Linked DNA regions of Homo sapiens. The protein of the gene in region 1 interacts with the protein of each later gene in a biochemical or structural test. Each region holds a gene or a part of one and is shown in the gene's direction. Other genes may lie near its edges.

Region 1 (3,801 bases):
TGTGATCTCAGCTCACTTCAGCCTCCACCTCCCAGGTTCAAGTGATCCTCCCACCTCAGCCTCCTGGGTAGCTAGGATTACAGACACGTGCCACCATGTCTGGCTAATTTTTATATTTTTAGTAGAGACGGGGTTTCACCATCTTGGCCAAGCTGGTCTCAAATTCCTGACCTCAAGTGATCCACCTGCCTTAGCCTCTCAAAGTGCTGGGATTACAGGTGTGAGCCACTGCGCCCCCTCCATCTTAACCATTTTTAAGTGTACACTACAGTAGCGTTAACTACATTCACTTTTTTTTTTTTTTTTTTTTTTTTTTTTTTTGAGATAGGGTCTTACTCTGTCCCCTAGGCTGGAGCACAGTGGCACGTTTTCAGCTCACTGCAGGGCTCAGCTCACCTCCTGGGCTCAAGCAACCCTCCTACCTCAGGCTCCCGAGAAGCTGGGACTACAGGCACAGGCTACCTACCACATCCAGCAAATTTTTGTATTTCTAGTAGAGACGGGGTTTCGCCATATTGCCCAAGCTGGTCTCAAATTCCTCCTGGGCTCAGGTGACCCTCCCACCTTGGCCTCCCAAAGTCCTGGGATTATAAATGTGAGCTACCATGCCCGACCACTACATTCACATTGTTGTGAAACAGATCTCTAGATTTTTCATCTTCCCCAACAGAAACCCTGTCCCCATTGACCAACAGCTCCCCATTTCCCTTCCCCTAGCCCTGGCAGCCACCATTCCACTTTCTGTTGCAGTGTTTGTCTACTTTAGATACCTCGTGGAATTGTACAGTATTTGTCTTGCGACTGGCTAATTTCACTAATGTAATGTTCTCAAGGTTCTCTGGTGTAGCATGTGTCTGAATTTCTTTTTAAGGCTGAATAGTCCTAGAGTAACACAGGGGAGTAAAGAAAAAATAAAAGGCTGGATAATATTCTGTTGTGTGTATAAACCACATTCTGATCATCTTTTCATCCATCAGTGGACAGTCGGGTTGCTTCTGCTTCTTGGCTATTGTGAATACTGCTGCATTGAACATGGGTGTGCAAATATTTAAACAACTTTTTAAAAAATAACTTTGTTTCTGGCCGGGTGCAGTGGCTCACAGCTGTAATCCCAGCACTTTGGGAGGGCGAGATGGGTGGATCACTTGAGGTCAGGAGTTTTGCCAACATGGTGAAACCTGGTCTCTACTAAAAATACAAAAACAAAACAAAACAAAACATAACTGGGCGTGGTGGCACGTACCTGTAATCCTAGCTACTCAGGAGGCTGAGGCAGGAGAATTGCTTGAACCCAGGAGGCTGAGGTTGTAGTGAGCCGAGATCATGCCACTGCACTCCACGCCTAGGCAACAGAGTGAGACTCCGTCTCAAAAAAAAAAAAAAAACCCACTTTTTAAAAAAATAAGAGCTCATGGTACCTATTTGCATCCAGTACATCATTGAAGCTTGTAGAAAGCTGCTTAGTTAAAGTGAGGTTGGGTCACTTCGAAGTAGTCCTCCAGTTTTCTAAGCAAGTAAATTTTGGAGGTAGAAAGAAAATGTTCTCCTTTATCCTAGAGGCTCGACTGTGGTATGGTGGGCCCGGGTCATTGATTTGCTTTGTCCTTAATTGGTTGCTCCTACCTGACAGAAGTGAAATGGGTGTTCTGATGGGGGGTGGTGGGTGGTGACTTGAGAAGGTCCGGGAGCCTGAAGTGGGATGAATGAAGAGCACAGAGGCTCGTTGGGAGGCGAGGATAAGGGGGTGCAGAGGCCAGATCCCACAGGCCAGGAGAGGCTGGAACTAAGGGCTTGGGCTTGACACCAGTTACAGCAGGGGCCTAACACATTCTATTAGGTTGATGCAAAAGTAATTGCGGTTTTTGCCATTAATGTGTTAATTGCCATTAAATGTTAATTTGCACCAAATACCTGTCTGGACCCTCGGTGTCCTCCTTGTAAATGGTGTGGTCTGGGTGCCTCCATGTTGAAACATTCGATAAAAATGGATGATGTCCCCATCTCAAGTGCTGGGCTGTGTGTACATCTTCCCTCTGCCTCTCCCCACAGGCCTCCACCGCTATGTCTGGCTGGTTTACGAGCAGGACAGGCCGCTAAAGTGTGACGAGCCCATCCTCAGCAACCGATCTGGAGACCACCGTGGCAAATTCAAGGTGGCGTCCTTCCGTAAAAAGTATGAGCTCAGGGCCCCGGTGGCTGGCACGTGTTACCAGGCCGAGTGGGATGACTATGTGCCCAAACTGTACGAGCAGCTGTCTGGGAAGTAGGGGGTTAGCTTGGGGACCTGAACTGTCCTGGAGGCCCCAAGCCATGTTCCCCAGTTCAGTGTTGCATGTATAATAGATTTCTCCTCTTCCTGCCCCCCTTGGCATGGGTGAGACCTGACCAGTCAGATGGTAGTTGAGGGTGACTTTTCCTGCTGCCTGGCCTTTATAATTTTACTCACTCACTCTGATTTATGTTTTGATCAAATTTGAACTTCATTTTGGGGGGTATTTTGGTACTGTGATGGGGTCATCAAATTATTAATCTGAAAATAGCAACCCAGAATGTAAAAAAGAAAAAACTGGGGGGAAAAAGACCAGGTCTACAGTGATAGAGCAAAGCATCAAAGAATCTTTAAGGGAGGTTTAAAAAAAAAAAAAAAAAAAAAGATTGGTTGCCTCTGCCTTTGTGATCCTGAGTCCAGAATGGTACACAATGTGATTTTATGGTGATGTCACTCACCTAGACAACCAGAGGCTGGCATTGAGGCTAACCTCCAACACAGTGCATCTCAGATGCCTCAGTAGGCATCAGTATGTCACTCTGGTCCCTTTAAAGAGCAATCCTGGAAGAAGCAGGAGGGAGGGTGGCTTTGCTGTTGTTGGGACATGGCAATCTAGACCGGTAGCAGCGCTCGCTGACAGCTTGGGAGGAAACCTGAGATCTGTGTTTTTTAAATTGATCGTTCTTCATGGGGGTAAGAAAAGCTGGTCTGGAGTTGCTGAATGTTGCATTAATTGTGCTGTTTGCTTGTAGTTGAATAAAAATAGAAACCTGAATGAAGGAACTGAGTCCCCGGATGTTTTGTTCTATTGGGTATAGGTTTCATAAGTGTGAGAAGTCAAGTCTCAGGGTGAGTCGTCTCCGTGACCAGCAAGTAACAGCTGGGACTTGTTCTAGGGGCCATATGGAGGGTCTGTGCCTCTACATGTGCCATTAACCCACAGCAGGAGCAAACAGTTCAGATTTGAGGTTTCTAAAAAAAAAATCATAAAATGTGAGGCCGAGTCTTATTGCCCAAAAAGCACCTTTGCTTCAAGTGGTCCTTTTGACCCAAGAAGGATGTTCTAAAGAAGATGGCTGAAAACCTTCCCCCTTGGTGAAGTCTGGCGCGGACACCGTAACAATGCCTAAGAAGTAGCCTGCACTTCCCGTTCTGATGTGTTATCCACAGAGGCTCAGTACCAAAGAGGTGCGCAGGGTAGGAGGGTGAGAAGGTCACGGTCTCATGCCATCTGATGTACCGAAAGAAAGGAAAGGAGGTGTTTGAAGGTGCAAATCACTGTGATTTGGTCTCTGCGATGCAAAGGGGGGGGTCCTGAATCAGGCCTGACAGGTGCTAATGACTAGCCCTTCCCCATCTTTCACTGCAGTACTTTTTTCTCTGAAAAAACTTGGAAATGTTGCCTTGCTGGAAGCACATAAGGTAGATGTAAGTTTTCTTTTTTTCTTTTTTTAATTTTTTTGAGATGGAGTCTCACCCTGTCACCCAGGCTGGAACGCAGTGGAATAATCTCGGCTCACCGCAACCTCCAC
Region 2 (3,820 bases), on another chromosome or scaffold:
ACGAGGATACCTGTCTCCAGATCTCAGTAAGGTACGGAGTAACTGTCCAAAAGCCATGAAGAGATTAATGGCAGAGTGCCTCAAAAAGAAAAGAGATGAGAGACCACTCTTTCCCCAAGTAAGTAAAAGCTTCATGCTATCCAAAAGAACAGACTAACATTCATAGACAGATTTCTGAGCACTTTTTTGGGCACACAGTGTGTATTTCATGAGTTTGGATTCTATGTGCAGACTCCAGACAAGAAAACACATTAAGATGGCTTCATGAGGGTTGAGCAGTGGCACACCTAGAAATTTTGGGTCCTAATACAAAATATTCAGAAAGACTTTGCATTTGTCCATCAGTTCTCAGACTTCTCAGTCTTTGAACTCTTTTACACATTTAAAAATTATCGAAGACCCCCCCCCCCACAAAGAGCTTTTGTTTATATAAGTTTTAATTCCTTATTAGAAATTAAAACTATTTTTTAAAATATTAATGAATTAAACATAGTAAACCAATATGTTAAATAATATTTAGAAAAAAACAGTTCTATTATCTAAGAGAAAAAAATTAGTGAGGAGTTGTATTGTTTTACTTTTTTTGCAAATCCCTTTGCAAAAAGAAGACAGCTGGATTCTCCGCTTTTGCACTCACATTGCAATATCTCACATCATGTCACCCCTAAAAACTCTACTTAACGCTTGTAAAATAATGACAGTAAAAAAGGCAAATGATATCTTATTGTTATTACAAAAATAGTTTTGACCTCGTGGATCCCCTGGTGGTCCACGGACCACATTTTGTGAACCACTGCTTTATTTCTTCTTGGTGGTAAACAGATTCAAGCTTTCCTTTAATACTGGGTCTTTTTGAGGGGCATTTCTGCCTGATGCAGAAAAAGGAAAAGGCAGTAAGGCATTTGTCAGCTCAGCCTGCCTTTACCTAATTCTTGATAACTCACTGCTTTTTTTTTTTTTTTTCCATATTGGAAGGATAAAGCCTTAAGTTAACAAATTTCAAAAAGAACTGTAACTAAGGCCAGGTGTCGTGGCTTACAAATCTCAACACTTTGGGAGGCCAAGGCAGGCAGATCAGTTGAGGTCAGGAGTTCGAGACCAGCCTGGCCAACATGGTGAAAACCGTCTCTACTAAAAATACAAAAATTAGCTGGGCATAGTGGCAGGAGCCTGTAATCCCAGCCACTCAGGAGGCTGAGACATGAGAATCGCTTGAACCCAGGAGGTGGAGATTGTAATGAGCTGAGATGACACCACTGCATTCCAGCCAGGGCAACAGAATGAGACTCTGTTTAAAACAAAACAAAACAAAAATATCTAAATACCTCAACTAGCTTACAGAGTTTAGCTGTAGTAGATATTATAATATAAATGCAATGTTTTCTGATACTTAGGGAGCTCCTGATAGCACTGGATAAATATGCCTTGATGAATCAGTACAGTTTCAAGTGGGAAGTGCTATTTCCCATAGTAACCCTGCTACCATAATTACTGGAGTGTTCATGTATGAACTCTTAGGCCTTTGAATGCCCAGTCCTAGCTGAGTAACTCAGACAGAAGTCAATGTTACAGGAATTAGATTCACTCATCCTTTATTTTTAAATCTAAAAAATGTTATTCTTCTCTAAAGAATGAAAGAAGATAAAATTGATGGTTTTAACAAGTCTGTCAGGGTGTTGCCTAAGAAAAGAAAGGGAAAGCTAAGTGGTTGGCTGGGTAGATATAAGTTTCATTTATCAGGTTTCAAAGTTACTGTTCCTTTGAGGAAGAGTTTTTATTTTTTCTTTTTATTTTTTTATTTGTTTCTCTAAGTCAGGAAACCTCTGGGTTGAGACTGTCCTGGTGAGAGACAAGTGCTGCTGAGCAGCTTCAGCATGACCCTGTCCCATGTTCTCTTTTCACGTCATGGTGCTCGGGTTCTTACTTAGAATGTTTATTGACATTAATAATGCAAAGTACATCCTTAGGCCCACTTTTTAAATGATATTAAAAGGGGCAAAATGCTTAGCTCCATACTTCTAAATATAACATTTCATTAATTACATGGTTTCAAAAACTGAAGTGCATATGTGAACTTTCCAGATTATTGGAGGCTATCCCTTTAAAGTGTTATTTTGAAATTTTTGTTACAGGATATCTTTTCACACCATACTGTTATATGCCACATAAATTTTAGATGGCTGAAGATCTATATGTTTTATAAAATATGAAATCATTTTTATAGTTTTGAGGTAGGAAAGGCTTTCTTAATAGACAAAATTCAGAAGGAAAAAATTAGCAGATGTGAGTACATTAAAAATTTTTAAACTTCTATATAGAAAAATAACATTGAAAGATAAAAAGAATAATTGTAGCATATATAACAAAAAGTAAATGTTTATAATATACAAAGGACTCCTCCAAATCAATAAGTAACAAACAATAGAAAATGGGCAAAGGGAATATGAACAGGTGATTCACATAATAAATACAAATGGTGAATGAACTTAGGAAAAGGTGTAAATATTTCCATGGCAGTCAGTAAAATGCAAAGACACAACAGTGAAATATATTTTAATTTCGCCTCTCAGGTTGGTAATATCCAGCACTGGGAACAATGTTGGGAAGTGAGGAGGAGCATTCTATGTAAAATTTTAAAGGTTTGGTGGAAGGCAGCATTTTGGAAGACCTTGGTAGAATCCATAAATTCAAAATACTTCTAAAAATCTGTGCTATGTAACCTATTTCATAAGTATTCAGATATATATAAGAATGTTTACTATAATAAGAAAAAGACATTAAGATTAAGTTAGTTTTGTATTGATGACATGGATATTGGTGAGAGAAAAAGAAAACAAGACAGAAAACAAAATGTAGTATGATACCTCATTTTTTTTTTTTATAGGCTGGGCCTGTTCTGTTGCCCAGGCTGGAGTGCAGTAATATGATCATAGCCCACTGCAGCCTCAAACTCCTGGGCTCAAGCGATCCTCTCACCTCAGCCTCCTAAGTAGCTGGGATTGCAGGTGCCTATCACCACACCCAGCTAATTTCTTGTGGTGGTGGTGGTGGTGGTTGTAGAGATAGATTCTCACTATGTTGCCCTGGCTGGTCTTGAACTCCTGGCCTCAAGCGATCCTCTCGCCTCAGCCTCCCAAAGTGCTGGGATTACAGGCGTGAGCCCCAGTGCCCAGCCTGATAACCACTTTAAAAGGTTAAACAGAGGCCAGGCACGGTGGCTCACGCCTGTAATCCCAGCACTTTGGGAGGCCGAGGCAGGCGGATCACCTGAGGTTGGGAGTTCGAAACCAGCCTGACCAACATGGAGAAACTCTGACTCTACTAAGAATACAAAATTAGCCAGGCGTGGTGGCACATGCCTGTAATCCCAGCTACTCGGGAGGCTGAGGCAGGAAAATCATTTGAACCCAGGAGGCGGAGGTTGCGGTGAGCCGAGATCGCACCATTGCACTCCAGCCTGGGCAACAAGAGTGAAATTCCATCTCCAAAAAAAAAAAGTGGTGTTCAGGTGGGCCTTGTTTTCATGTATGTATTTTTATACATAAAAAAAGGTACTGAAGAGGCCAGGCGCAGTGACTCACACCTGTAATCCCAGCACTTTGGGAGGCCAAGGTGGGTGGATCAGTTGAGGTTAGGAGTTCGAGACCAGCCTGGGCAAAATGGTGATACCCGTCTCTACTAAAAATACAAAATTATCCGGGCGTGGTGGCACACGCCTGTGATCCCAGCTACTCGGGAGGCTGAGGCAGGAGAATCGCTTGAACCTGGGAGGCGGAGGTTGCAGTGAGCTGAGATCGCGCCACTGCACTCCAGCCTGGAC

The links.
Region 2: the proteins of PEBP1 (region 1) and BRAF form a complex in vitro, tested with the Homo sapiens proteins (one study listed by BioGRID).

Annotation. Positions count from the first base shown.
Region 1 is NC_000012.12:118,142,537-118,146,337, forward strand, and holds the end of PEBP1 (phosphatidylethanolamine-binding protein 1), read left to right. Parts: intron 1-2,049; coding exon 2,050-2,267; 3' UTR 2,268-3,048; downstream 3,049-3,801.
Region 2 is NC_000007.14:140,736,110-140,739,929, reverse strand, and holds part of BRAF (serine/threonine-protein kinase B-raf), read left to right. Parts: coding exon 1-118; intron 119-3,820. UniProt on the Homo sapiens protein: Protein kinase involved in the transduction of mitogenic signals from the cell membrane to the nucleus. Phosphorylates MAP2K1, and thereby activates the MAP kinase signal transduction pathway. Phosphorylates PFKFB2.